Homo sapiens: one gene and its partners. The protein of the gene in region 4 purifies or fractionates together with the protein of the main gene of each other region. This does not show direct contact. Each region holds a gene or a part of one and is shown on either strand. Other genes may lie near its edges. The genes, in order: LRFN1, MAN1A1, LEPR and CDCP1.

Region 1 (7,282 bases), on a different chromosome or scaffold from region 4:
TCAGTAAAGGATACAAGAATATGTCAAGATATGAAATGACCCCTGCATTTAGAGGGTTGAGTGAATATGTTTGCCCATTTTGTATGTGCGTGTGCATGGGTGTGGGAAGATCTCCCGATAGCCTGACCTCCTGGTGGCTGAGAAAGCTGGAGAAAATAATAAATTAGTAATAATAATAGTAATAATAATAATGATAATAGCAGCAGCTCACATGTATATAGTGTTTACTTTGTCAGGAACTATTCTAAGCATGTCATAAAATATTATCTCATTAAATCCTCATAGCAACCTTATGAGGTGGGTGCCATTATTATTCCCATTTGACAGATGAGCACACCGAGGCACAGAAAGGGGAAGTCACTTGATTAAAGTCACACAGTGGGGAGGTGAGGTCTGAACCCAGGCAGTAGGGCGGATTCTGTCCTGCAGTGCTGCACCACTCTCCATAAATGTTAGCTATTTCCATTGCTATTATTATTCCCTCCATTTGAGTCCTACCCCAGCTGTCGGAGGCGAGGCTCTGGACTTCTGTTTCATAGACTGGGATTCTGAGCCCTGAAGACCCCACAGCCAAGCAGGGGCAGACTCAGGCTCCTAATTCTGGAGTCCCCCTTTCTAGGCCAGGGTTTCCAGTACATTGTAGAGTAGTGATCTAGAGGGAGTGAAGGACAGATTTGGGGTGAACTCAGAGATGGTAGGACACCCCGATCCGGCCTCTTTTTCCGCCTTCAGCCCGGTCATTGTCTCTCTTACTCTCTGTCTCTTTCCTCCTCTGTCTTTTTCTCTCTAATACTGTCTCTATTTTTCTCTCCATCTCTGTGTCTTTTTTCTGTGTCTCTCTCTTTTCTGTGTCTCATTCTTCACTCTCAGTTTTCTGTCTGTTCACCTTCCTTTCAGACTCATCTTTTTGTCTCTCTGTTTCTCTCCCAATCTGTCTCTCTCTCTTTGCCAGTCCACTTCTCCCTCCCCCTGGTCTCTCCTTGTCTCTCTTCACCTCTGTCTCTGACTTTCCTGGTCTCTGTCCCAGGCCCCCTCCCCACTGGCAGGAAGATCAAAGCCACCTAAGGCCGTAGCCCCAAACACAGATTCCTGGGAGGTAGGCCAGCAGGGGCTAGGGTACAGGGCAGGGTGGGGTGAAAACAGTTTTAGGGACGCCCCCTTCCCATCCTTTCCTCTTCACCCCCCGCCCACCCTGTGTTGTGATGGGAACTGACATGTCGTGGGCTGCAGCCGCCGCAGGGGGAATCCCTGCCGGAAGGTTTTGCCTGGAGCAGAGACATAGCGTGAGTGTGTGAGTGTGTGAGTGTGTGTGTGTGTGTTGTGTGTACCCAAAGATGTGAGCATGAAAGTCTGCCTTGCTTGGGAGCTCAACTGAGCCCAGGATGAAACCAGACCTCAGAGAAGGCCTTCCTGAGGCTGAACTGGAAGACTCTGATGTGTTTTCCTCAGTCCCTCCCACTTTGACACTCTCCCTGCCAATGCCAGAGGCGGGAGGGGGGAAACCCTTAACATTTATTGAGTACTTACTGTATGCCAGGCATGGTCGGTGGTACATGAATGAAGATGGTACAATTATCATCCCAATTTACAGATTAAGAAATTACAGCCTAGCTAGGGGAAATCATTGGCTTGGGGGTCACAGAGCTAGCAAAAGGGGAATCAGGATTTGAACCTGAGTCTGTTTGATTTCAAAGTACTTACTCTCAATAATAGGGCACTGTTCTATGCCTGGTACATATTAAGCACTTGATGATCATGATGATGATTGCTAACATGTAATAAGCACATTTTATATGCCTGGCACTATTCTAAGTATGCTATGTTCATCAATACATTTAATCCTCACAGAAGTAAGGCCTGTTTCTATCTCCCTTTTACAGATGAAGAAACCGAGAATCAGAGAGGTTCAGATACTTGCTGGAGGTCACACAGCTAGTAAGTATCAGAGCTGGGATTTGGAGCTAGGGAGTATGGCTTGGATAGCCAGGGCCTTAAACCATAGTTAACAGTGATTTTTTAGACAATTTAGTGGGTACTGGAGGGCCCAGGTTGGGCCAGGTGTCACCCCTCTGGTTGGGAGATCATGAGAGGTTTGGGAGCTACTACAGGAGGGGCAGAGGTGAGGGTGGGACACGCAAGTAGGGACAGGGGTATTCTATCAACCAGTATAGAGATATTTTTATTTTTATTTATGTTTTAAGATGGAGTCTTGCTCTGTCGCCCAGACTGGATTGCAATGGTGTGATCTCGGCTCACTGCAACCTCCACCTCCCTGGTTCAAGCGATTCTCGTGCTTCAGCCTCCCAAGTAGCTGGGATTACAGGCGCCCACCACCATGCCCAGCTAATTTTTGTATTTTTAGTAGAGACGGGGTTTCACCATGTTGGCCAGGCTGGTCTTGAACTCCTGACCTCAGGTGATCCGCCTGCCTCGGCCTCCCAAAGTGCTGGGATTACAGGCGTGAGCCACTGTGCCCAGCATGGAAGTGTTGTAATCTGTTGTTAATAGCTGATAGTGGCTTCCTCTCACCATCCTATGGAACCCAGCTGTAGGCGGTAGGGGAGGGATCCAGGCCTGACTCGTAGCAGGACATCCCATGGCGGCCAAGTCCCACGCCTGGGTAACCGGCTCCTTCCCCGGCAGGTCTCACCTCCCACCCCTCCTGCCTTCCCACTGCACCATGGCTCCAGGACCCTTCTCCTCGGCCCTCCTCTCGCCGCCGCCCGCTGCCCTGCCCTTTCTGCTGCTGCTCTGGGCGGGGGCATCTCGTGGCCAGCCCTGCCCCGGCCGCTGCATCTGCCAGAACGTGGCGCCCACACTGACAATGCTGTGCGCCAAGACCGGCTTGCTCTTTGTGCCGCCCGCCATCGACCGGCGCGTGGTGGAGCTGCGGCTCACCGACAACTTCATCGCCGCCGTGCGCCGCCGAGACTTCGCCAACATGACCAGCCTGGTGCACCTCACTCTCTCCCGGAACACCATCGGCCAGGTGGCAGCTGGCGCCTTCGCCGACCTGCGTGCCCTCCGGGCCCTGCACCTGGACAGCAACCGCCTGGCGGAGGTGCGCGGCGACCAGCTCCGCGGCCTGGGCAACCTCCGCCACCTGATCCTTGGAAACAACCAGATCCGCCGGGTGGAGTCGGCGGCCTTTGACGCCTTCCTGTCCACCGTGGAGGACCTGGATCTGTCCTACAACAACCTGGAGGCCCTGCCGTGGGAGGCGGTGGGCCAGATGGTGAACCTAAACACCCTCACGCTGGACCACAACCTCATCGACCACATCGCGGAGGGGACCTTCGTGCAGCTTCACAAGCTGGTCCGTCTGGACATGACCTCCAACCGCCTGCATAAACTCCCGCCCGACGGGCTCTTCCTGAGGTCGCAGGGCACCGGGCCCAAGCCGCCCACCCCGCTGACCGTCAGCTTCGGCGGCAACCCCCTGCACTGCAACTGCGAGCTGCTCTGGCTGCGGCGGCTGACCCGCGAGGACGACTTAGAGACCTGCGCCACGCCCGAACACCTCACCGACCGCTACTTCTGGTCCATCCCCGAGGAGGAGTTCCTGTGTGAGCCCCCGCTGATCACACGGCAGGCGGGGGGCCGGGCCCTGGTGGTGGAAGGCCAGGCGGTGAGCCTGCGCTGCCGAGCGGTGGGTGACCCCGAGCCGGTGGTGCACTGGGTGGCACCTGATGGGCGGCTGCTGGGGAACTCCAGCCGGACCCGGGTCCGGGGGGACGGGACGCTGGATGTGACCATCACCACCTTGAGGGACAGTGGCACCTTCACTTGTATCGCCTCCAATGCTGCTGGGGAAGCGACGGCGCCCGTGGAGGTGTGCGTGGTACCTCTGCCTCTGATGGCACCCCCGCCGGCTGCCCCGCCGCCTCTCACCGAGCCCGGCTCCTCTGACATCGCCACGCCGGGCAGACCAGGTGCCAACGATTCTGCGGCTGAGCGTCGGCTCGTGGCAGCCGAGCTCACCTCGAACTCCGTGCTCATCCGCTGGCCAGCCCAGAGGCCTGTGCCCGGAATACGCATGTACCAGGTTCAGTACAACAGTTCCGTTGATGACTCCCTCGTCTACAGGTGGGTGCGGGTGCTGCAGTCCCAGGGCCTCCTCCCAAGCCCAGGGGGACCCTCCCTCCCACCTGCCCATTCCCTTGGCCTTCTTGCTCAGCCAGGGTTCTAGATGGCTGTGAGAGCTGTTCCCGCCCTCCTTTGCCCTGTCTCCTCTCTCTATTTCTCACTGTCTCTGTTTTTCGTGCTTATAGAAAATATTCGCTGAGCACCTACATGAACCCGACCAGGGCTGGGCACTGGAGTCCTAACAGTGACTGAGCTCAGCATGAACCCTGCCCTCATGGGGCTCATGGTCGATATCACTGCTCCCCACAACAATCTGATTGTGCACCTCTTCAGTTAAACATTTTGGAGCATGAAACACACACACACATTTACAGTGACATTTATTTATTTGTTTGTTTTGAGACTGAGCCTTACTCTATTGCCCAGGCTGGAGTGCAGTGGCACGAACTCAGCTCACTGAAACCCTCCGCCTCCCGGGTTCAAGCGAATCTCGTCCCTCAGCCTCCCAAGTAGCTGGGATTACAGATACCCACCAACACACCCAGCTAAGTTTTGTATTTTTAGTAGAGACAGGATTTTACCATGTTGGGCAGGCTGGTCTTGAACTCCTGACCTCAAGTGATCCGCCTGCCTTGGCCTCCTAAATTGCTGGGATTACAGGTGTGAGCCACCGTGCCTAGCCTACAGCGACATTTATATTTATAAATTATATACCAGTACTACTGAACCAACACATTGGGTACATTACAGAAACAGAAAACAAAACGTATGAGAAAAATATGTTATTTCCACCCTCACTTGGGTTTGAAGCCATTGCCCTGGTGGGGACAGACCATACGGTGTCAACAGACATTTTAAAAAAAGAGTTATTTTCTCCCATCGCCTCCTTATTTCTCCTTTCACCTCTCTGTCTGTCTCTACCTTCTCTGCCCTCGTTAGGCACAGAGCCCCTGCTTTGTGCAAACTCCTGAGCTGGGTGCTGGGGACACAGGGAAACCACCCAGACCCTGTCCTCAGGGAGCTTATAGCCCAGTAGGTCGTGGTCCATAGTACACTATGAGTTGCAGTCCTGGCCTTGCCATGTCTCTCCATCTCAGTAGTTTTTTTTTTTCTTTTTCTTTTTTTTTTTTGGCAGGGTCTTGCTCTGTCACCCCAGGCTGGAGTGCAGTGGTATGATCATAGCTCACTGCAGCCTCAAACTTTTGGGCTCCAAGCAATCCTCCTACCTCCTGAGAGTAGCTGGGACTATAGGTGTGCACCACCACACTGGGCTAATTTAAAAAAATTTTTAGTAGAGATGAGGTCTTGCTATATTGCCCAGACAGGTCTTGAACTCCTGGGCTGAAGTGATCCTCCTGCCTTGGCCTCCCAAAGTGCTGGGATTACAGGTGTGAGCCGCTGCACCTGGCCCATCTTGGTAGTTTTTTAGTATGGCTCTCTGCCACAGAATTGTCACACAGTAGGCACTTGATAAATGGTAGTTTGCCACATGGATGTCTCTCCTTCTAGCTCTGCCTCCCTCATGCACATTGTAGAGCACCAGTTAAATGCTTCAGTCATCTGCTTGGCTTCACCTGGAGATGCCAGCGGGGCTGGAGCTGTTTCCCTACCTGTGGAGAGCCCCAGCTCCTGGCTGTCAGATCTTCACCGAGAAACCTGCCTCTTGGCCTCCATCTCTGCCTTTCCAGTGTTTTCTTGGCCATAGGTGTGGCACATAGTAGGTGCTTTCCCAGTGTTGGTTGAATGAAAAAAATGCCTCTTGGCCGGGCGCGATGGCTCATGCCTATAATCCCAGCATTTTGGGAGGCTGAGGCGGGCGGATCACTTGAGGTCAGGAGTTCAAGACCAGCCTGGCCAACATGGTGAAACCCTGTCTCTACGGAAAATACAAAAATTAGGCAGATGTGGTGGCACGTGCCTGTAATCCCAGCTACTCAGGAGGCTGAGGCAGGAGAATCGCTTGAACCTGGGAGGCGGAGGTTGCAGTGAGCGGAGATTGCGCCATTGGGTGACAGAGCGAGACTCCCTCTGGAAAAAAAAAAAAAAAAAAAAAAAGCCTCCCTTTTCTTTTGTCTCTGTCTTCCTCATTTCCCTCTCTTTTTGATTCTGGTCCCAAACACTGAGTAGATGCCTACTGTGTGCCCATCTTGTGTTGGGCCCTGGGCCTACTGAGATAGGTTAGATCCTGGCCCAGCCTTACAAACATGAGGACAAACAAATGAACAAAACACAAACCTTCACAACGAACTTCCAAGCTTGATCTTCCCAGCTCCGCTATGAAGGCGTGATGACCCCCTCTCCATTTCAAAGACAGAAAAACTGAGGTTCAGTGGGGGATGTCACTTGCCCAAGGTCACACAGAAAGTAGCAAAGCTGTCCTTTATACACTGACACACATTTGTTGGGCACCCACTGCTTGGAAGGGAGATGGATAATATATTTCTGTAAATAATTCTGAGCTTCTGTGACTCTCCACTTCTCTGTCCCTCTCTTTCCTTTGCTCTGAGCCATGGCCACCACATGGTGGGGTGGGGGAGGTTCACAAGCCCCCAGACCCTGCATGGATGCAGATGTTGATGGCCCCCTGTCCCCAGCTGGGCAACAGACCCTGGGACTCTTCTCTTCCCTGTAGGGCCCCAGTTCCAGTTCTCCAACCCCCATTGCAGATTCCTATGCTATGGTGCCGCAGGGGTTAACTTCCTCACGCTGTCATGGGCGGAGGTGGCAGCCAACCAGAAGCCTGCTTAGCTGCTTGCTTTAATTCTGCAGCCAATTAGAGACACTTGGGCTGAAGCTTTCTTAAGGAGCCAGCCTCTGTCCTTGAAAAGGGGTGGGGGAAGCCCCTAGCAACTGGCTATTTAGGGGAAGGAGCAAGTGGAATCCAGGGCTCTGGAGAGGAGAGATGAAGAGAGGAGGAGGAAGGCTTAAAGCCAGGGCAGCCGAGGGTGGCTGGGGTGGGTGGCAGTGGTCTTTGAAATGGCAGTCAGGGGTGGGTAGAGTGGAGTTGGAGAAGTGGGTGGACCTTTATGAAGGGGCGGGGCCCTGATTGGAAGTCTTTTGGTGGGAGGGTGGCTCTTGGTAGTGGGAGAACCTCCTGGAGGTGGGATGACAGAGGTGGAGCTTCAGGGCCAGAAGGTGGCTCTGCTGGAGGGGAAGCGGAAGCATCGGAGAGATAAGCAGGCCTTCGGAGGTGGGG
Region 2 (7,282 bases), on a different chromosome or scaffold from region 4:
GTATATATAGTGGGCCAATGTAAGCAAACACAAGGTATCACACCAAATCTATTCTTGAGAAAACCATTCCTATTTCAAACTTAATGTTTAAAAGAATCATATATTGATTTTGATTTACTCCAGGACTGTGGGGGATGGGGAGTGGCCATTTCTTTATATTTCTTCTAAGTTGTGATCTCTGTGTTGACTATAACCATACTAAATATGCTATATTCTTATTTGGCCTAAAATTTATTAGATTTTCCTTGATTGATCACGAATAAGTAAAATTGGCAAAGCTTCTTTCAGAGTCAAATCCTGCTTTCACAAACTGAAAGGAAATAATTTACTACATCTGAGATAGAGCCTTTTTCAAATCTGAGAAATCTGAACCAAATAGAATGCTTTATTTTCCAAAGAAAAAAATCAAGATGAAATACAAACAAGTGAACTAAAAGCCATATGAAATACCCTCTCTTTAGACAGACCCAATTTCTTCATATATTCAGTTAAACCCAAAAGCTAATCCATTAAGTTGTACTATTTTCTTCAGATAAATGTAATTCAGTGATAGCAGAGCTCTGCAAAATTTGAAAGCTCACCTCTCTGTGTAGTGGGGAATGGAAGAAATTAACTAGTATATAATCCAGAAATGACACAGGGCATTTAAAGTAAAATTAAAGGACACATTTACAAAATAGAAAACACTAATATAATTAACCAACAAAAATATACTGCAGTTCCGATGAAATGAGGTCAACATGACATGATCCTTTTGGAATGACTTTCTAATTTGAATTACAATGTGAGTGAAGTATTTTAGAAGACATTCTATCAAATAATGATAGACCTGCATAAGGAGGCTGTCACAGAAGATCTGTCTCTGGTGGACAGACAAACCAGATTAACATGAAATTGTAAAGGAAAAAGCTTTTTTATACTTATTATTATGGCTTTTTGCAACATGGCAAAACATTACAGCTTAAAGCAGACATCATCTCCTCTTAGAGGAGGAAAAAGTTTTGCAGTCAAATCAAATTATAATTAAGAGGTCATCGCTATACAATTCTATTCAGTTTAACAAAAACGATATTACACCTTCATGAAATCCAGAGATAATAGGTTACTTAAAAACATAAACAAAAAACTGGTGGATACACTGGCTGAATTAATAAAGGATATGATAAGGAATTTAGGTCCACCTATACCTATGATAATAAACATAAAAGACTGCAAAACAATTTAAGAACTTAATCACAGACCTACTAATCAAAGTTCATCATGTGCCTGATTACCAGAAAAGGAATTATTAAGGTATACAGTGAAGGGAATGGAGCAGAATAAAATATAAAATGTCTTTTTATTCCTCTCTGATTTCAACTTCCTTTTTATCTTTAGGGAGGATAGGGAGAAGATGTGCCTCGCTATTGAAGATCCAATGCTCCAGTGGAAGAAGATCGTCGTCAGAAAATATTAGGTACAAATATCTGGTGAGAGAAACATAAGTATATGAGGCCCAAGACACTAGGCAGGCAGTGAAACCACAAACACACAGCAAAAACCACATCAATGTCTGCATTCATCTTACCAAGAAACATGGACAAGAGTCAAATATATCAAAACCCTGAGGGGTTATACTCATTAACATGGGGTAAAGCAGCTACTCAGTGCTTTGGTGTTAGCAGTACCAAGTCACTGAACCTAGTTATTGAGAATATACCTGCAATTATAGCCATGCCTGATATTCTGAATCAGGCATACTTGATATTACTTGAATGTGTTCATGATAAAGACATCTACAAAGATCTGTTCAGGTACCTTAGCCACATGGTTTTAGAATAATTTTCACCTACTTCAATGTCTCTGCCAGGAAGAAACTCTGCTGCACATCATCATAACTCTCATGAAGAAGGTAAACATCCCTTAGGCCTGAATAGCCTCCATTCACTCTGCAATGGTTTTCCAAGGCCTAAATTATAGAGGAGGAAAAAAAAAAGTCACATTTCAGTAAACTGATTGTCACTAATTTTTATTATTAGATTGTCAAGTTCAGATAAAACATTTTTTTTTTTTGAGACAGGGCCTCACTCTGTTGCCTGGGCGGAGTACAGTGGCACCATCATGGGTCACTGCAGCTTCTACCTCTTGGGCTCAGGTGATTCTCCTGCCTCAGCCTCCCAAGTAGCTGGGACCACAGGCATTCGCCACCATGCCTGGCTAATTTTTTGTATTTTTTGTAGAGATAGGGTTTTGCCATGTTGCCCATGGTTGTCTCAAACTCCTGGGCTCAAGCGATCTGCTTGCCTCGGCCTCCCAAAGAGTTGGGATTACAGCCATGAGCCACTGTGCCCAGTCAAAATTTATTTTTTACAAATTGGATTCAAATTAAATGAAAGTTTGTTATAGAGTTTTAGGTAAAAAAAAATTAAAACCATAAACTAAATGTAAATTAAAAATGAAGTCATAGAACATATGGACCACATATCTTACCTAATTTGAAACACTTCTGCCTTTAGTTTTGGAAAAATTTTTCACTGATTTTTACCAATTCCCCCTATGGTCTGGAGCAGGGTTTAGCAAAGTATGAACTATAGGCTAAATCCAGTCCACTGTTTATTTTTGTAAATAAACTTTTATTAAACCACAGCCATGTTGTTTAAATATTGTCTGTGGCTGTTTTTGTACTACAATGACAGAGCTAAGTAGATGCAAAAGAGACTAGCTGGCTGTCCCCCAAGCCTGATATTGTCTGGCCCTTAACAGAAAGAGTTTGCTGACCCCTAGTTTGGAGAGACTGCTAATGTCAACTGGGATCATAAACCACTGGTTGAGAAACCGTACTGGAACAAAATCAGCTGCTTCTATAATCAGAGTATCTGAGTTTCTGAAAATTGATTGTAGGGTACTCATCAGTGATATTGGTAACAGAGCTAAAAGAAGAAAATGAAAGACAGTGAGAGACATGTGGCTGGGATCTATTCCTAAAATACATGTTTTTTTTTTTTTTCAGTCTAGTATGGAAGAAGATGGGATGACTCCACTGACAACTCTCTAGAGAGAAATGATCCTACATTTCTGTAGTTGTCTGAATTTAATGAATATTTGGAAAACAGATGGGTTGGGCAGTGTGAGGATGAACATTTAGGTAACAACCTAAACCAACCTGCCTTCCACTTTGTTGGTTACCACTAAGATGGCTGCTGTTTGTGTTTTCTTTTTCCCTTTCAGAGCCCACTTTCTTTCTTTTGTTTGTTTCTATTTTTCTTTAACCTTTTTCCAGCTTTACCGATGTATGACAAATACAAATAGTATATACTGGAAGGTGTACAGTGTGATGTTTTGATATACACTACTTCTGTGGATATACACCATCTTCTGTGGTGGATATACATCATCTTCTGATGTGGATACACATCATCTTCTGTGGATATACACCAAGAATTAGGATTGCTGGATCATATGGTAGCTCTATTTTTAATTTTTTGAGAAACCTCCATACTGTTTTCCATAATGGCTATATCAATTTTCATTGCCACCAACAGTGTACAAAGGTTCCCTTTATTCTGCATCCTCACTAAGACTGATTACCTCTTGAATTTTTGATAATAGCCATTTAAAAAGGTATGAGGTGATATCTCACTGTGGTTCTAATCTGCATTTCCCTGATGATTTGTGATGTTGAGCATCTTTTCACTACTGGCCATCTGTACGTCTTCTTTGGAAAAATGTCTCTTCAGGTCCTTTGCCTATTTTGAAATCAGGTTGTTTTTCTGCTACTGAATTGTAAGTTCCTTATATATTTTGGATATTAACCCCTTATCAGATATATGGTTTGCACACATTTTTGTTGTGTTTTTAGTTGATTGTTTCCTTTGCTGTAAGGAAACTTTTTAGTTTGATGTAGTTTCATGTGTTTATGTTTGCTTTTGTTGCCTGTGTTTTTGGGTCGAATCCAAAAAATCATTGCCAAGCTCAATGTCAAGGAGCTTTTCCCCTGTTGTTTTCTCCTAGGAGTTTTATGGTTTCAGGTCTTACATTTAAGTCTTTAATTCATTTTGAGTTGTTTTTTTTTTTGTGCTGTTTATATTTTGAAATTACATTTGTTGCTCTGCTAGTTACCAGGCATATTCATCTCTAGGAAAGTTATTTTCTGCCATCACATCCTACTAATCCTATTAATTATATGGTCAAATAAAAATTTCCATCGTACAAAAATTGCCATCTGCAATCTGGTTCTCATTTATTGACTGTAGACAAAAATAATAAAGTTTAAGACTAAAACCCTAATATATTTTATAGTGAAATAAAGAAAATGTAAACAAGATATACTTACTCTTAGTTTCTCATGTCATTTTTCACTTACGTTTCAGTTTTCCCCTGTGGATCATAATTCTGTCCCTCTTTTTTTTTTACATATATAATTGTACCCCATTTTTCTCCCATTTAATCCAACTACCAAGAAGATGGAAAGCATAGACTTTGCCTTATCAGTTGAGAAAAACCTTCTCTGGCTAGAAAGGATTTTGGAGGAAAATAAGGCTCTAAGAATGTAGAGCCCAGAAAAGAGGCGAGGGAAAGTAAGTACCAGCCACGGATTCTCATGAGCAGAGATGTTGCACTGAGAGCTCAGCTCCCATCTGCAGATACTGATAATGAGGTTATTGATTTTTCACATCAGGGCTGGAGGACAGAAGGGAGAGAGCAGAGAGACTATGAGGAGAAGCATTTAATTACCTGGTTAAAGAAATTCTGGCCAGCAGGCCACATGAATAAAGAAAATAAAGAAAATGCCTCATGATTTCATACTTTTAAAAAGCCCCGAAGAAAATAAGACCGATCAACTTAAAAACAGATGCTTCGATTAAATTCTAAGTTCCAGACAGTGCGTCAAATGGAGGATGAGCATGAAGAAAGAAACTTTCAAGTCCTATTATTTTTTCTTTCCTCCTTTTTTTTTGACAAAGAGTCAAATACCAGATATGTAGAATAAGCCAAAAATTATTGGTTAAAAAAAGGAAAAAAATCAGAATTTAGAAAAAATGGGCAAGGTTTTTATGGGAAACCCTATTTCCGGATATTTCTTTAAACAGATTTTAATCCCAAAACCTTTTCTTAGTTGTTCCCTTGAGGTTTTTTGGTAATGAGCTAATGAGAGGGCCAGCCATGATAAACAGCCACTCCTCCTCTCCATGGAAACTGCTCTAAGCTCCTTCTTTTGTTAGAGGAGTTGCTTTTGGGGTGGACAATGCCTAATCACCTTTCTTTCTAGTTCACCCTCTCATTCTTGTTCCCCACAAGTCCTCTTGGGGTAAGCTATAGTATTCAAGAACACAGCCAAAAATTTTGAGTAGTGGGCCAACTTCCAGCTTGAGACCCCCTTATCAGTGGCCCCAGAGGTTCCATGTCCCAGGCAGCATCTTCCTTCTCAACATGGGGTTGTACGTGAGAATAAAACAAAATGAAGAAATGCTTAGACAATAACAAGGGCTTCAGAGGTTTAGAGAGGCCCAGTCACTTTGCTTTTGAAGTTTTTGGTAAATTAAAAAAAAAAAATTTTTTTTTAAAGGAAAAGCACCCAAGAACTCCCCCTCACCCCTTACGCAAAAGTCTAGATTTTAAGACTTTAGGAACGTGAAGCTGGGGACAAATAGCTTTCCTGGGCCCTTACAACAGCCCTGATTCTATCAGCATCTCAACAGTGGAAGCTGTCATGTGTTTGTATGACTAAGTCTAACCAGATCATCATTGTACTATAATCTGTTCTTGGGATTCTCAGCCTCTAGGCATGGGGACCACCTTGGTTTTGAGTAAATGCTTCTATTATTAGTGATCCTATGTGACTGGGATGTGCAAATAGCAGAGAACAGGATATGAGAATGTTTATAATGATTGGAGCTCTAAACAAAGGATGAAGGGTAGGTAAGAAAATAGCAAGCATCATGAGTTAAATCCTAAGTCAGAGGACAGAAGAGTATTCTCTTGCCTACCAGATATATAAATGGCTGATCCGTGGAGTAAGGCTGTCTGCTTGAGTGTCGTCTGAACTCAAGGATAGAACACAGAGAATCAGGCACCTTGAACAAATCAAAGAGGGTTTGGAAACAGGATGAAGCCTGAGGAGGCAGGAGTAGGAAGGAGGAAAAGAAGTCACTTCCTGAGAGTCGAAATGTCTGAGTGGAAAAGGTTAGGTTTAGAAGAGCAAAGAAAATGTCTGTGCAAAAAAACAAAACCAAAAAACCTGAAACTACCAAAAAAAAACCCCCTAAAGCCAAAAAAAAATCCCAAATCCCTAGGTAAGGCTTTACCCTTTACCATAGATCAGCTGAGACATTATATAATCTATGTGAATATATACATACAATATTCTGATAAAGCTCATGCTGTAAGTTATCAGATGTTTAAATGGAAGGAATTTGTCAGTTTCTCATGATTTTTTTTTTTAAAATTTTCAAGAGAGTCTCGCTCTGTTGCTCAGGCTGGCGTGCAGCGGTGTGATCTTAGCTCAAAATAACCTTGAACTCCTGGGCTCAAGTGATCCTCCCTCTTCAGCCTCTTGAGTAGCTAGGGACTATAGGAGTGTGCCAGCATGACGGGCTAATTTTTAAATTTTGTAAAGACAGGGTGATGACTTGTTGCCCAGGCTGATCTCAAACTCCTATCCTTGAGCCATCCTCCCACCTCGGCCTCCCAACATGCTGGGATTACAGGCTTGAGCCACCACGCCTGGCTTTCATGACATTTTTGAGAAAAAGCAAAAGAAATTATCAGTTAAATATTATTTCTGTCAGGCAGACTCACAAGTGCTTGAACACCTGTGATTAATGGAGTGCTGTTAACCCACAAAAGAACTCTCTAGTGTTGTACTGCTGGATTATATACCTTTTCACATCTTATTTGACATTATTATTAGAAATTTAATTAAGACACAGAAAGCAGGTTTCTCAAGTGTATCAGTGAAAGAAGGCTGGGAAGGGAGTGCTTTGTTAGAAGATAGGAAGACGGCTTACAAATACTTTACAAACTGAAAGTATGGGTGAAAAAGCACAGTGCAAAGGAGATGTGACTCAACGGTAGCAAATGGAGAAGCTAACACTGACCATAATTTCAATATAAGCCAGTTTTTCTTTATTTTTTTGGAGTTGGAGTCTTGCTCTGTCCCTCAGGTTCGAGTGCAGTGGCGTGATCTCGGCTCATTGCAAGCTCCGCCTCCTGGGTTCATGCCATTCTCCTGCCTCAGCCTCCTGAGTAGCTGGGACTACAGGCGCCCGCCACCACGCCTGGTTAATTTTTTTTTGTACTTTTA
Region 3 (7,282 bases), on a different chromosome or scaffold from region 4:
TGAGAAACTGGTATCAGAACAGAAGGAAGAGGTCTGCAGTACCTAGCTTTGACAGGCCTCATGGAGGAGGGGGTACTGCCGATGGTCAGGCACAGAGGAGAGGAGCAAAGCCTGCTGGGAAAAGATCATCTGAATGAAATAGTATGTGGTATTTGCTTTCCATCCACACATGGGCATTTTCCATTAAAGAGTGGAAATGTAAAAAGATATGTTAAAATTGACAGTGTTTCTTTGTCCCTTAACATGTGTATACTTTCAGATGTTTTTTAAAAAGCACTTTGGCACCTTCCTATTAAAGAGTCTCTCTAAATCTTCTCTCAAGTAAAAGGAAGCAATCAAAAATGTTCATTGGCTTAATTAATTAGTTTAATACTAATTATGAGTATTATGGACTTTTTTCAGAAGAAAATTTGGATAAGATAGTCTCCTATGCTTTTGATTTCTACCTTTATCAAAGAACATTGCTAAAATGAGTAGATACCTGAGTCAGTCAGCATTTATTTGGCTACCTCCTTTTGCCAAGCACTTTACATAGATTATCTCATTTAATTCCCATAAGCTCAATAAGGTGGCACCATTATTTCCATTTTACAGGTGAGAAATCAGGTTCAGAGGATTAGCTTCTACCCAAAGTCATAAGACCAGATGGTGGCAGAGTTAAGATTTGACTCATGTTTGTGACTCAGAGCTCAAGATTTTGTAACAACCTTGATACTCTGTTTCTCACTCAGCAGCACAACAAGGGCAAATACGTTCCTACTCCCGCAGAGACTAGTGTCCAATAGATACAGGGAATACATATTTTATTCAGTGCACACTAGTTGGGAATTGTTTCCTACAAAGACATGAAAACAATCTTCAAATACTTGCAGTACTGTGGTTTGGGGAGGCAAAATGATCAAAGGTATATATTACAGGGAGGCAGTTCTGGATATAATTTAAAGAAGGAGGGCTTTCAACATTTAGAAGCTGTTGGAATTAAATGACTTGCCTTGGGAGGTAGTGAGTTTTCCTTCACTGGAGTTATGTGGACCAACTGGCTGCCCTCTGGTGACAAATACAGAGGGAATTCATCCATTGGATAGGGGTTAGGTACTGGAATTACTTGAGACCTTTGTATACTTTATGATTTCAAGGTGGCAGACATGGGTCATTGTCTTAATCAGTTTGGGCTACTATAAGAAATATATTTTAGACTGGGTGGCTTAAACAACAAACATTTAGTTTCCACAGTTCTGAAGACTGGGAAGTCCAAAATTGTGGTGCAGTCAGATCTGGTGTCTGGTGAGAGCCAGCTTCCTGGTTTGCAGGCCTGCTTTCTGCTCTCACATTGGAGAACAGAGGGAGAGAAACACAGAGAGAGTGTGTGCTCTACTTTCTCTCTTCTTATAAGGGCACTCATCCCATCGTGGAGACCCCACCCTCATGACCTCATCTGAACCTAATTATCTCCCAAAGGTCCACCTCCTGATAGCATCTCACGGTGAGAGGGATGGAGCCGGGAAGGTTTCAACATGTGAATTTGAAAGGGACACACATAATGCAGTCTGTAACGGGTCAAATGTAACCTCAATAAAATGAGTAAATTGCTACATTTGCTTGAATTTGGGACCTTTTTTTCTTTCTTTTTTATTTTAGTAAATGTTTTTATTGATAAATGATTCACATACCATAAAATTAACATTCTTAAAGTGTAAGATTTCATGGTTTTTAGTATATTCAGAAGGTTATGCAGCCATCACTACTATCTAATTCCAGAAAATTTACTCATCCGCCAAAGAAACTCTGGACCTATTAGAAGTCACTCCCCATTTCCCCAAACCCTCTAGTGCCTGACAACCTCTACTGTGGGAACTTTAACTTTTGGCTTTATTTTTCACAGCTCTCGTGGCATTATCCTTCAGTGGGGCTATTGGACTGACTTTTCTTATGCTGGGATGTGCCTTAGAGGATTATGGGTAAGTTATCATTTCAAAAAGAACTATTCCTCTTTCTGTGTCTTTGTCACTATTAGTATGGGTGTTAGAGAGTTCGGTCAATTTAGCACCAAGTTCTAACCAGTGAGTTAGTGGAGCCCAGTTTATGAACACAGTCCCTTTGTGGGTCAGGTGTACTTTTGCAGAGGGCTCTGTTAAAAATTGATGTATTCATTCCATAAGCATTTGTTTAACACCTACTCTGGACTAGCTGGGGACACACAAATGAAGAGAGAGTCCTGTCCTCAAAGAGGAGGTAAAGTTCTAGTTGTGAGTGAGAGACAGGCAAACGGTCTAGTCAGTAATCTGGCAGCTGCAGTGGAGATGCCAGCACAGTACGCTGGAGCTCGGATAAAGTGCACCTGAGTTTCAGTGGGACAGTCAGGGAAGGCTGCATGGCAGAGGTTGTATCTGAGCCAAGACTAGGTGGATGAATAAGAGTTTTTCAGGGTGATGAGTCAGGGGAGGACATTCCAGGCAGAGGGAACATTCTACACATTTTTTCATTCAACCATTGTTGGTTGAATGCTTCCCATGTGCCAGCTACTGTTATGGGAACTAGGGATTAAGACATAAGAAAACAAAGGTCCTGCTCTCTCAGAGTTTGTGTTTCAGTGGGGGAGACGGACAGTAAACAACAAAAGTATGCATACTGTCAGAGGTAGAAATGGTACAAAAGATGAAGAGCACAGAAGCTGGGAAGACAGTGGTCAGGGAGGGCCTCTCAGAGGAGGTAAAAAGTGAGAAGAAATGTCAAGAAAATCAGCAAGCAGGCCATACAGATCTCTAGGGAAAAAGCACTTTAGGCACCAGGAAAGCTGAATGCTAAGGCCCGGAGACATGAAAGTGTATATAGCCTTTTCAGGAAACCACACATGGTACATTATGGTACAGCATAAATTGTAGTGGAGTGGCAAAAGAAGGGTTAGTCAAGAGTGTAAAAGTCAGCACTTAGGGCTCTATATGCCTGCCGTGTAGAGGAGGTTCCATTTTATACATCAGACAATAGAACCTGGGAAAATATCTTGAGAATGGGTTTGGAGGAGGGGGTTATGTTAAAATGTCATTCTTGCCATAACGTGAGACTAGATAGGAAAGAGCTGAGACTGCAGTCAGGGAGAATAGTAGGGGACTACTATCATAAATCAAGCAAAATTGAGGGCTGGGGCAGTAGGAATGGAAAGAAAAGGAGAGTGAGTTAGGAAACCAAACCAACCAACAGGTTTTGTTCATCGATGTCAGGATTCAACAAGGAGGGAGAGTTCTTAGATGTCTCCCAGGTGATTGGCTTGAACAACTAGATAGAAGATGATGTGATTAGGCCAGGCACCATGGCTCACGCCTGTAATCCCAGCACTTTGGGAGGCTGAGGCGGGCAGATCACGAGGTCAAGAGATCGAGACCATCCTAGGCAACATGGTGAAACCCCATCTCTACTAAAAATACAAAAAATTAGCTGGGCGTGGTGGCACACGCCTGTATTCCCAGCTACTTAGGAGGCTGAGGCAGGAGAATTGCTTGAACACAGGAGGTGGAGGTTGTAGTGAGCCAAGATCGTGCCACTGCACTCTAGCCTGGCGACAGAGCAAGACTTTGTCTCCAAAAAAAAAAAAAAGATGATGATGATGTGGTTAAGACCTATTGAAGTGAGTTATTATGACAGTGATGAATTCAAATCCATCACCGCAGTCCTGGCCAACTATTACAGAAATTGTTTAAACCCAAGAGGGATCCAGATATAAGCGGTCACTTATATTTGTTTAGAGCCTTCACAGCAATTACTTTATTCTAGCTTTTGGAATGTAATACGGTATTATTATCCTCATTTCTCGCTGGGAAACCAAAGCCCAGGGTAGTTAAAGACTTACCCAGATTGAACAGCAGTAAGTGACAGAGCCCGGCCGTGGTGGCTCATGCCTATAATCCCAGCACTTTGGGAGGCAACGGTAGGAGGATTGCTTGAAGCCAGGAGTTTGAGACCAGTCTGGGCAACAAAGTGAGACCCCATTCTACAAAAAACTAAAATAAGCCAGGCATGGTGCCTGTAGCAGGGTTGGGAGGCTGAGGTGGGAAGATTGGTTGAGCCCAGGGGTTGGAGGCTGCAGTGAGCTGTGATCACACCACTGCAGTCCAGCCTGGGCGACAGAGTGAGACTTTGTCTCTTAAATAAAAAAGTAGAAAAAAAATTAAAATGGCAGACATGGAAATGGAGCTCATGTTCTGACGCCCTTGACCAAACGTTTTTCCACTATTCCACAACCAACTGTAAATCTAGGAGTTTTAATTCTCTGTGATACACTGTCTTTGTAAGGTAAGAAAATGACTCATTACTGCTACTACAAATAAGTTTGTTTTCTATCTTTATTTTAATTTTTTGTTTTTTAGAGATGCCACAACACCCAGCTGATTTTTTTTAGAAGTTTTTGTAGAGACCGAGTCTCTCTGTGTTGCTCAGGCTGGTCTTGAACTCCTGGCCTCAAGTCATCCTCCTGCCTTGGCCTCCCAAAGCTGTATCTTGATAGTGAACCAGGATTATCATCTATATTGGAAGTCAGCAAACTGCCACATATAACCTGCTACCTGTTTTTGTAATAAAGGTTTTATTGAAATACAGCCATGCTCATTTGTTTATGAATTATCTTTGGCTGCTTTTGCATTGCTCTGCCAATTATCTTTGGCAGAGTTGAGTAGTTGAGATAGTCTTTATGGCTTGCAGATCCTCGTTATTTACTCTTTGGCCCTTTATAGAAAAAGTTGGCCCACCCCTGGCCTATGTATTTATTGAATTGTATATATTTAATATTTACATTTTATATATAAACAAGGTTTCTTGTACATTAATATTTCTCTTAGTTGGATATCGGTGGCTTACTATGAATGAAAACATAGAGTCAGATTGTTTTTCACAAAACTGTCACTGTATTCCAGGAAAAATTAAGAGTTCTTGGCTGTGGATATGTAAGGTGACATATCTATTCCAAACCCCTTCCCCTCTCTGTGTCTCCTTTCTCACTGTTGAAAGAAGGGCTTTGAAGTAGAGAATGTCTAAGGGCTACTTCCCACAATATTGTTTGGTGATTCTTGAAACATACTATCATCCCTCTAGTTTAAAATCAGGGGTCCAAATCCACTGTTTCCATCCTGAGTCCTCTTGAAGGACACATTCCCTTCTTGCCTTTTGGTTGCCTAGATCTGTGGCTGGAATGGGAGGCTTTCATTAGTGTGGCTTCATCCCAACTCCTGCTTGTAGGTGCTGTCTGGGCGTATCTGTGTGATTACAGTATTGTGGTGATATGAATTATTGTAGTGTATATATAAAAATGAGCAGAGACTTTTTTTTTCTTAAGAAATGAAGCATAAGAAATGTCTGATGGAGAAAAAAAGATTATTTTTGAAGTACTGATAGAGAAAATACTGTTGGAAACCAGATGGCAATTTTTTTTTTATAATTGCAAAATGTTGAAATTTGGGAGGAAAACAGTTTTGTTTTGTTTTTGCATTACACTATTAATTGTGAGCTCTTATAATGAAGATCAAAGTACATCTAAGCTTTTCACTAGTGAGCATATTTATTTTCATGCCTTCCGTACTTAAAATTTATTTATTATTTTATTCATTTAACAAGTATAAATGGAGTACATCATTCTAGGCCCTGGAGATAAATGGCGTTTGATCAAGACTAATCTATCAGATGGGAATAAGTGTTGTGCAGAAAGTTCAAAGAGGGTGGTATGTTCGAGGGTGACCTGGGGTACATTAGAATAGATGACCAGGGAAAGTTCTGCTTTTAGAAAGGAATCTGTCAGTTTAGATCACATGGTATGAAGGAGTCAGCCAATGAGAAGATCATGGGGAAGGACATTGCAAGCAGGGGGCACAGCTAGCGCAAAGGCCCCAGGATAACAGCTATGAGCTCAAGAGTGTTCAAGGGACAGAAAAAAGGCTGGTGTGGCTACAGATTAAGCAAATGAAGGGAAAAGAGTACAAAATGAATGGAAGAAGTAGATAATACCAGACCATAAAGGCTTTGTAGGCTAGGGCAAGGAATTTAGGGTTTATTCTAAGCTCTTAAAAGGTTTCAAGCATGCGTGCACTCAAAAGATCTTTACCGAACTAGCTTTTGCAAGACACTCTACTATGTTCTATAGGGAAGGCAGAAATGACCAAGTTAAAATTCTGTCTTTAAAGAAATTGTGGCTCAGTGGTACAGAAAACAGTAAAGTTTCTAGGGTATATATTATATAGTGGCTTCTTAACACAATATAAGCTACCTACATAGTAATTTTAAAATTATCACTACTTATCTATCCCTGGTAGAAATCATCTTATGTTCTAATATTCACAATTAATTAATTTTTTGACCTAAACATTTAAAATAGCAATGATTTTGAAATAGTAGTATGTCTTTCATTTAAAATGTAACTGTTACTTTTCTTTTTGGATTTTGCCTGGGTCCAACTGACAGCGTTTACTGGCCCTTATTCGTCCTGATTTTCCACGCCATCTCCCCCATCCCCCATTTCATTGCCAAAAGAGTCACCTATGACTCAGATGCAACCAGTAGTGCCTGTCGGGAACTGGCATATTTCTTCACTACTGGAATTGTTGTTTCTGCCTTTGGATTTCCTGTTATTCTTGCTCGTGTGGCTGTGGTAAGTTTTATTTTCTATTGTTTTGCCCAACCGTTGCTGAGTTTACTTCAGAGGCCTGTGTCTGGGACCTCCATTTCATGCTCATTACTTAGGCTTTATACTCAAGGCCGTGTGTTTTTAGTTTCTCTGTTCCTCTACTTTAGACCTGCCTAACAGTAGTTCGGCCATGCCTTCAGAGTGCTTTCTTTATTTCTCTTACAACTTTTAGCCAGACGATATGATTTCTTACTTTTTCTACTTTAAGCTATTCTCTGGAATTGTTCTTAAATTCCTGCCTCTTAAATCTTACAGTAATCCACAGATACTATGCTAGCAGTACTTTTCTAGTTGCAAGATGAAGATATTTCAAATTCTTCTCCTGCAAATGGGATCATGGACTCAACTCTCAACTCAGTATAATAGGTATATGTTGAGGGACAACTGTGTAGCTTCCAGAAAATGCAGTGAATAAGTTGACATCTTCACTTCCAAGACAAAAACTTTCTTTTTGTCTTCAGAGTACACATTGTAGGTATAATTTATTCAATTATTTGCTATTCACTGTCTTTCCTACTATTTGATTTTATTCCCTCCAATTACGTTCTATTTTAATTTTATGAAACTCTTATTTGAGGCATTGAATATCAGATAAGCGCAAGTCTTGTTCATTCAATA
Region 4 (8,114 bases):
GTAGGCATTTTTTGTTTTAATGCAACACATCTTCCAGTATTTTCTTGAGAAGAGGTATGTAGGAGGTTTGGAGGTTTTTTAAGATCTTGAACGTTTAAAAGTGCCCTTTTTCTACCTTATTGTTTAATTGGTAGTTTGGCTAGGTATAGAATTCTAATTTGGAAGTTATCTCTCTTCAGAATTTTGAAGGTATTGCTTCATTGTTTTCCAAATTCCAGTGTTGTTCTTGAGAAATCCAAAACCACTTTGATTTTTGTTATTTTCTGTGAGACCCTTTTCTTGCCTCTGGAAGCTACAGAATCTTCTTTTTTGTTGTTTGTTTGTTTCCATCACCCAGGCTGGAGTACAGTAGTGTAATCTCGGCTCACTGCAACCTCCACCTCCAGAGTTCAAGTGATTCTCGTGTCTAAGCCTCAGGAATAGTTGGGATTATAGGCGTGAGCCACCACGCCTGGCCTAGAATCTTCTTTTCGTTATTGGTTTCTGGTATTTCACCATGATGTGCCTGGACGTGAGTCTGCCTATATTATCCATTGTGCAGGGCACTCCATGACTCTTTTAATCTGGAAACTCATGTCATTCAGGCCTGGAGAATTTCTTCACTTATATTATTGATGATGTCGTCTCCTCTGTTTCATCTGCTCTCTCTTTTTAGGAAACTTATTTTTCAGATGTTGGATTTTCTGAACTGGACCTCAAATTTTCTTTACTTTTCCCTCCTACTTTTTATCTCTTTGTCTTTTTGCTTTACTTTCTGGGAGCACTTCTAACTCTTCTATTTATTTATTATTATTTTTTTTATCTACAATCACTTTTTTTCATTTCCAATAATTCTTTTGTGGTTCTCTGAATCTTTTTGTTTGTTTTGTTCTGTTTTTGAGATGGAGTTTCGCTCTTGTTGCCCAGGCTGGAGTGCAGTGGTGCAATCCTGGCTCACTGCAACCTCTGCCTACTGGGTTCTAGTGGTTCTCCTGCCTCAGCCTCCTGAGTAGCTGGGATTACAGGCACACACCACCACGCCTGGCTAATTTTTTGTATTTTTAGTAGAGACAGGGTTTCTCCATGTTGGTCAGGTCGGTCTCAAACTCCCAACCTTAGGTGATCCACCCGCCTCAGCCTCCCAAAGTGCTGGGATTACAGGTGTGAGCCACCACACCCGGCCTTGTTTTGTTTTTTATAACATGCTGTTCCTGCTTCACAGAGAGAATGTTGTCTGACACCAAATTATAGTTGCCTACATCACTCTAAGAGAGTTAGTAATTTTTTTGTTTTGCTTCCTTTTATTTTCTTCTCTTTGTATAGTCTTTCAGGTTGCTTCTTTCTTTCTTTCTTTCTTTCTTTCTTTCTTTCTTTTTTCTCGGTTTGGTTACTTGGTTGGCTTTGACTCTAATATGTTAGAAGCTCTCCTCAGATATCCTGAAATCCTGATTGCTCATGTTTAAAAGTGAGATATTGGCCAGGCACAGTGGCTCACGCCTGTAATCCCAGCACTATGGGAGGTTGAGGTGGGTGGATCACATGAGGTCAGGAGTTCGAGACCAGCCTGGCCAACATGGTGAAACCTCATCTCTACTAAAAATACAAAACTTAGCCAGGCGTGGTGGTGTGCAACTGTAGTCCCAGCTACTTGGGAGGCTGAGGCAGGAGAATCGCTTGAACCCGGGAGGCAGAGGTTGCAGTGAGCCGAGATCGCGCCATTGCACTCCAGCCTGGGTGACAGAGCGAGACTCCATCTCAAAAAAAATAAATAAATAAAAATTAAAATTAAAATGAGATATTAAAAAGCTAAGTTGGTGGGGCTTAATTGAAAGCCTCATGGTAGGAAGCTGGTTGGCCTGTTTATGAGGGTCTAATGTCCATATGTTTGGGTCTTTCCTCCTGTGCTGGTCAGACTCCCCAGAAGAAGACTTTTTCCATCCCCAATATGGATAACAAAGCCTTTTTGTCTCATCCTTGGATGCAGGTTGGGGCCAGACAGCTGGGGATCTCAGCATTCAGAATGCATATCTTCCCTTTATTTACCTACTTTTACAATGTTTCCTATGCTTTCAGCTATGCCTGGCATCCCTCAGCCCACATCCCTAGGTTTTAATCTCTCCAGAAGACAACACTAAAGTTGTTAAGCTTACCAACCCTCTAACTTGTCAAGATCTAAAGATCGATAATATAGGCAGACTCACATCAAGGCACATTATGGTGAAATTTCAGAAACCAATGAACAAAAAGAAGATTCTACAGCTTTAGAGGCAAGAAAAGGGTCTCAAAGAAAATAATAAAAATGAGAATGGTTTTGGATTTCTCAAGAACAACACTGGAAGCTGGACGAGGGACTGTTGCCCAGGCAAGGGTAATGATGGATGGGTTCTGGGATCTAACCACAGTACTTCTCAAACAGCTTTCTTCTAGCCTTTCTTGTTTAACTCCTCTTTCACCCTCCAGTTGCAGAATACCTTGTGCTGCCATTTCCTGAGGATCTTTTTTGAGGATTTCTGTGTTAATCGTGTTATTTCTGAGTTTTCCCCACTACTGGCTTAGGGTTCTGCCATCTCCAGGCTCCTAAGGCAGCTACCACTAGTCCAGCTGCTGTCTAGCTTCCAGGGTGATTTTGCTGTTGTCTTCTCTCTGTTCTTCCCACCTTTGTGGGCTTATGTAATTTTTTTTAATCCCTGTTTTACAGCCTTTGCAGGGTTTCAGAAGAGGTCAAAATTAGATGGGACAGTCTGTTTTAAGACTCACCTTCCTTTTTTTTTTTTTTCTTTTTTTAGAGAGAGAACTTTACTCTGTCGCCCAGGCTGGAGTGGAATGGTGCAATCTTAGCTCACTGCAACCTCCACCTCCCAGGTTCAAGCAATTCTCCTGTCTCAGCCTCCTGGGTAGCTGGGACTACAGGCGCCCGCCACCACAGCCGGCTAATTTTTGTGTTTTTAGTAGAGATGAGGTTTTGCCATGTTGGCCAGGCTGGTCTCCAACTCCTGACCTCAAGTTATCCACCCACCTTGTCCTCCCAAAGTGCTGGGATTACAGGCATGAGCTACTGCACCCAGCCGAAAATTTACCTTTCAATCTCTCATTTCTCTCTAGCACTAGATTATAGTTACCTACGTTGCTTTCCAGTTCAGAAATAACCTTTTAAAATTTACTCCTTCCATTCAGCCATGTTTGTAAAGACAAAACATGTCCATTCTTGGCAATGCTTTGTTCACACTCCACTTGGAGGACCAGGACAGTATGTCAGGACATCTTTACTTCAACTATGTAGTTGGGTTGTCACGCAAAGGATGCTGAAGTGCCTCCCTATTTTCTTCTTTCTCGTTGCTGCTACTTTCTGGAACCACCACCAATGCTTCATATTTGGGAATTAGTGACTCTCATTCCATTTTCAGAAAGCTGGTGTCAACTATCCCAAGAAAGACAGTTAAGCAAACTTTGGAGAGACGAAATAGTAAGGAAATAACTTGTTCCTTAGGCTTAACTTGTCAAGCAATATTTCTGATATTTTGCATTCAATACACTGCCATTCTAGTACTGTTGTGGGTATTACTGTATGTGGGAAACAATGGTGTCATGGATGTTAGGAAAAGATGCTGGGATATATATGCCTGCTTAGAATCAGGAGAAAAGACAAATCTCCTTTCACCCTCCTGGTCAGCATAAATATTTTTAAAGATTGTTTAGATTTTTGTCAAGATTTCTTTCTCTTGATGAATTTGTCCTCGATTCAGTGGGGAGAACCAAGAGCCTCTCTTCGTTTCTCATCCTCTCCCTTCCCTCTAGTTCTCAGTTTTCCCATTTTTCTGCACAAGGACAGAAGTGGACTAGAAGATTACATCTAAGGTCCCGTTTAGCTCACGATACAGGCCCTCCCAGAGGTGGGGGTGTGGGCAGGGTCATGTTCCAAGTTCTGCCTCCCTCGATGGACTGTGGGCTCCCAGAGGGCAGAGCTAGCTCTATTCTCATGATTAAGGACATCGAGAAGGAAGGGGTGACGCTCCTAGGAGATGATTTCCCACCCCTGTCCACAAGGAGGATTGGGGCAGCCTGGAGAGGCTCAGTGCCCGCAAGAATTAAGCAGAAGTTGGGACTGGACTGTAAACTGATGCTGTCGCACATGCTTTGGTTCCTGTCCCAAGCCTCCCAGGTTGCTCCGGGTGACTCTGGCCCAGCTTCTGGCTATCCATGAACACAAGTAGTCCCAGGGAGTCATTCTGGCAGAACCCAGGTCTGCTAGCTAAGAACTCCTGAACCATCCGCAATCTCTGCCTGTGGCCTGGACTTGGTGTATGGCCGGCAGGGTGGAAGGAGAACCCACAGGGCCTCTGAAGACAGGCAGGTGGCACACCTGCGGCTGGGAGGATTTGGAAAAGGAGTCCAGCGCCATTCATTTTTCATTCATTTTCCAGCCCAACGTTTGACCTGAATGCTTCACGCTCACACTGCACACACTACTCCATTTATAATACAACTCGAGAAGGGCACATACTACTCCATCCACAGCTCAGTGAAGGGATGCATACTACTCTACTCACAATTCAACGAAGTGGTGCATCTGCCTCTAATTTACTAGCTACCCTGGGGACCTTGGACACGTTGCGTGTCTGGAAATACTGCAGGTGATGTGTGTGGAGTAGGCTGCAGGCTCACCGTCCTGCAAATACTAGCTGTACCACCACCGGCTTTAAAGTCCAACAGACCTCTGGCCCAAGTCAAGTAGCAGAGGATCCAGGGCTTGGGTGGCCCACAAATAGGATTCTTCTCCAAAACGAGGCGCATAATGGCCTTTGTCTCCTCGACAGAAAAGGGAAGGTAGACTGGCTTCCTCTATGGGCGACCTTCGCGACTCTGGAGAAAAAGACCTCATCATTCTCAGACTTGGGAAGGAAGACTAAGCCCGGAAAGGTGGGGACAAGTCCGCTCCAACGCCGCAATGGGGAGTAGTAGGGACCCAGCAACCCGGTGCCGGGAGCCCTGCACCCTGGGAGGGAGAGGCGGTCGCTGAGGCAGGAAGAGGAGGAGGAGAGAGAGGAGGGACGCACCGGGTCAGCTCGCGATCCTGCTGCGCAGGGCGGGGCTCGGGCCGGTCCGCCCGCGCGCAGGTGAGTGAGCCAGGGCGGAGCGCAGCTGCGCCGGGCTTGGGCGCCTGGGGCCGCCGCTCCCCACCGTCGTTTTCCCCACCGAGGCCGAGGCGTCCCGGAGTCATGGCCGGCCTGAACTGCGGGGTCTCTATCGCACTGCTAGGGGTTCTGCTGCTGGGTGCGGCGCGCCTGCCGCGCGGGGCAGGTGAGTGCCGGGCTTTGGAGGCGGATGGCGTGGAGTGGTGAGCTAGCCAGCCAGCGGACGCCCGGCGGAGATGCGGCCGAGGGACGCAGGGTGCGGAGGGTGCGGAGGGTGCGGAGAGAGGGCGGGGACGGCGTAGTCAAAATGCGCGGGTGGCTCCGGGACCCCCGGACTGTTCGGTTCCTGCGCGCGCCGCGTCGGGCGCGTGGGCCTTGCCCTCCTGGAGTCAACCTTGCCCTCGGCACGTGAGAGTGTCCCCGATCGGGGAGCCTCCCGGTCCGGGAGGATGAGCCCGGTGCTGGCCGAGAAGGCGGGAAAAGGAGCTCCCGGTAGCCGATCCCAGGCGACATGTCCAAGGTGGCGCGCCGTGCGCCCCAGGGTCTTTGCCGGGATTCTTGAAAGCACCCAGGCAGGGTGTGGGAAGAGATCTTTCCTCTCCAGGCTCGCCCTCTACCTCCTCGCCTGGTCCAGAGAGAAGGTGCAAAAAAAGTGCTTTCACGTCCGCATTTCCCACTAGATCCCCTTTTTCCCGTCCGCACGCTGCATTCCCCCTCTCCTAAAGTTGAAGAGCGTTGGTGCAAAAATGAAAGCGCCCGGATTTCTTTTAGGGGGTCCCAGAGAAAGCCGCCAGGCATCTGCGCCACCGCAGAGACTGGACATTCCCGCGCCCCTCGCACTTTTTGGCAGTGGACTTTGAGGGCAGGAGGCTGTTGTTCCGGGGATATGTGTGAATTTCGAGTTGTTTCGGTTGGGGGAAGGGACCAACACGTCCCAGTGACCTGTGCCAGCCAGGAAATGCCCTGTGGGCCCTGGATGTATTAGAACGTAGTAAATAACCTGGTTTCTTCATGTAAGAACTTGATGTGAGGCTAGTACAGGTTTCGCGAGATTAGTACAGGTTTTGTGTTTTTTAAATAGAGCTCTCCAGGAAGCCATGTGGGTTTGATTCCCCTTGCTGCATCTAGGGTGGATTTGTGTTTGGCAGGTGTAAATTAGATAAAGGAATAAAAGGACGCAAGTGAGGTTGAATTTGGGCGTCCCGGTGACTGCCGTCTTTACAAATACAAGACAGGAGCTTCTAAAATATCAATATAAGCTCCAGGAATACTTCCTGGTTCATTCTCCAACATCAGGTGACATATTGCTGCATAGTAGATAGAAAATTTAAAACTTCATTTAAACCATGGCATGGATTTATAAATATATATATAAATTATATATATTAAAGTAGAGACAGGGTTTCACTGTGTTGCCCAGGCTGGTCTCGAGCTCCTGAGCTCAAGTGATCCTCCCACCTGGGCCTCCCAAAGTGCTGGGATTACAGATGTGAGCCACTGTGCCTGGCTGATGAATATTTACTATAATTTCTTAGGACTGAATTTCCAAGATTCCCTTTGAAGAAAAAGAATTAGTTTAAGAATAAAAAGGAAGTGAAAATATGTGTATATGTGTGCTGAGAAAAATGCGTGCCTACCAGTCTTGGAACAGTATTGAAACTCTGGGAATTATCTGAGATGTTTTTGGCTTTCTGTGACAACAGTGGGGAACTCTTCCAGTCAGAACAGGGTGTTAATCAAGGCATTGCTAATAATGAGAGCCTCTGTTCCTGGTCTCATTTCTCCCTGTGATCTGGGAAGGCTGCCATTTTGGTCCAGTAACTCCAATGGAGTCCCTTCCAGGAAGTCCTTGACTGGCTGAGCCCTGTCTCATGGTTCAATACATAAATACGTAGAAACCTAGGAACTTTCCCTTTCGCTTTCTTAAGTTCCTCCCTATGGTCTCAGGAACTGGCCCTTTGAGGGTACATCAGGCTGAACTGAGAGCTTTTGTGGTTGGAGTAGTTGCCTGTAGTCTTGAGGATCTAAGTGGCAAAGGCCTTTGAGAAATTCCTGGAGACTGTCCTGAAAGGATACAGAAAGCCAGAGCCCTGGCACAGTGGATTTGTTTTATAAATCCATGAAGTCTCTTAACAAAGAAAGACTCAGCAGAGTAAAAATGAATTTGGTGTCACTGCAGAGATGAAAAGTAAAGGAAAGTTTGTGTCTTGGTGTCGTGTGTTTGTGTGACTTTGGTATCCCCACCAACTCCCCCATTTCCAAGAGTGAAACACTGGTTACATTGGGATCATAGCCTTTTGAAAACCTCCATTTGGTTGCTTTCTAAGAACCACTCAGATACCAGAGTCTGGGTCAGTGACCCCAATCTTGCCACCATTGTCTCTTGCCAAAAATGTGAGCAGACAGATCAAATGATATATTCACACTCCCTGGGTGAGTGTGGGTGTTCATTCTGTTTCCGATTCAAATGAGGAGCTACTGGCTGTTGTCTGGAATGTGTAACTGGTAGCGCTGATGAGTCTCCCCCATCTCCTCCCCCACATCCCCACAGATTTGCATGACTTGGAGTCAGACCTGTTAGCCCTAGGGCTCACCTCAGATGCTGCCATTTCATCTATGATGGTTGCACGCCTTGCATGTGCACACACACACTCTTCTGGGTGTTCTCCCTGGCTATCAATATGGGGGAAGGAAGTTAATAATTAAGATGTTTTAAGTAGCATATAGTTATTGTAGAAAAAGTGGCAATAAATATAACCAAAATGGAAAAAAATTATCTATAAGCAAACTGCCTTATTCACTTTGATGCAGTCTTCTTAATGTGTATGTATGCACGCTCATGTGCACAAACCAAAAATGGGATCATCCCATTGTATGGCTTTAACCAGTCCCCAGTTGTTGGACATTTAAGTTGCTTCCAGTTTTTCTTATTAAAAATAGAACACGTCCAACAATAGCCAGCTGCTTGTATCAATTTTAATAGGTCTATTCAGTGAAAAGGCA

What was found.
Region 1: the proteins of CDCP1 (region 4) and LRFN1 purify together in Homo sapiens (affinity purification with mass spectrometry; 2 studies listed by BioGRID and IntAct, with this or other methods). This does not show direct contact.
Region 2: the proteins of CDCP1 (region 4) and MAN1A1 purify together in Homo sapiens (affinity purification with mass spectrometry; 2 studies listed by BioGRID and IntAct, with this or other methods). This does not show direct contact.
Region 3: the proteins of CDCP1 (region 4) and LEPR purify together in Homo sapiens (affinity purification with mass spectrometry; 2 studies listed by BioGRID and IntAct, with this or other methods). This does not show direct contact.

The regions. Positions count from the first base shown.
Region 1 is NC_000019.10:39,310,735-39,318,016, reverse strand, and holds part of LRFN1 (leucine-rich repeat and fibronectin type III domain-containing protein 1 precursor), read left to right. Parts: intron 1-1,880; 5' UTR 1,881-1,935; intron 1,936-2,643; 5' UTR 2,644-2,680; coding exon 2,681-4,086; intron 4,087-7,282. UniProt on the Homo sapiens protein: Promotes neurite outgrowth in hippocampal neurons. Involved in the regulation and maintenance of excitatory synapses. Induces the clustering of excitatory postsynaptic proteins, including DLG4, DLGAP1, GRIA1 and GRIN1.
Region 2 is NC_000006.12:119,178,480-119,185,761, forward strand, and holds part of MAN1A1 (mannosyl-oligosaccharide 1,2-alpha-mannosidase IA), read right to left. Parts: intron 1,949-7,282; coding exon 1,833-1,948; intron 1,467-1,832; coding exon 1,340-1,466; 3' UTR 1-1,339. UniProt on the Homo sapiens protein: Involved in the maturation of Asn-linked oligosaccharides. Progressively trim alpha-1,2-linked mannose residues from Man(9)GlcNAc(2) to produce Man(5)GlcNAc(2).
Region 3 is NC_000001.11:65,423,421-65,430,702, forward strand, and holds part of LEPR (leptin receptor isoform 1 precursor), read left to right. Parts: intron 1-1,882; coding exon of another isoform or gene 1,883-1,958; intron 1,959-4,361; coding exon of another isoform or gene 4,362-4,383; exon of another isoform or gene 4,384-4,589; intron 4,590-6,441; coding exon of another isoform or gene 6,442-6,628; intron 6,629-7,282. Other genes in the region: LEPROT (leptin receptor gene-related protein), read left to right, coding at 1,883-1,958, 6,442-6,628. UniProt on the Homo sapiens protein: Receptor for hormone LEP/leptin. On ligand binding, mediates LEP central and peripheral effects through the activation of different signaling pathways such as JAK2/STAT3 and MAPK cascade/FOS.
Region 4 is NC_000003.12:45,143,369-45,151,482, reverse strand, and holds the start of CDCP1 (CUB domain-containing protein 1 isoform 1 precursor), read left to right. Parts: upstream 1-5,104; 5' UTR 5,105-5,195; coding exon 5,196-5,277; intron 5,278-8,114. UniProt on the Homo sapiens protein: May be involved in cell adhesion and cell matrix association. May play a role in the regulation of anchorage versus migration or proliferation versus differentiation via its phosphorylation.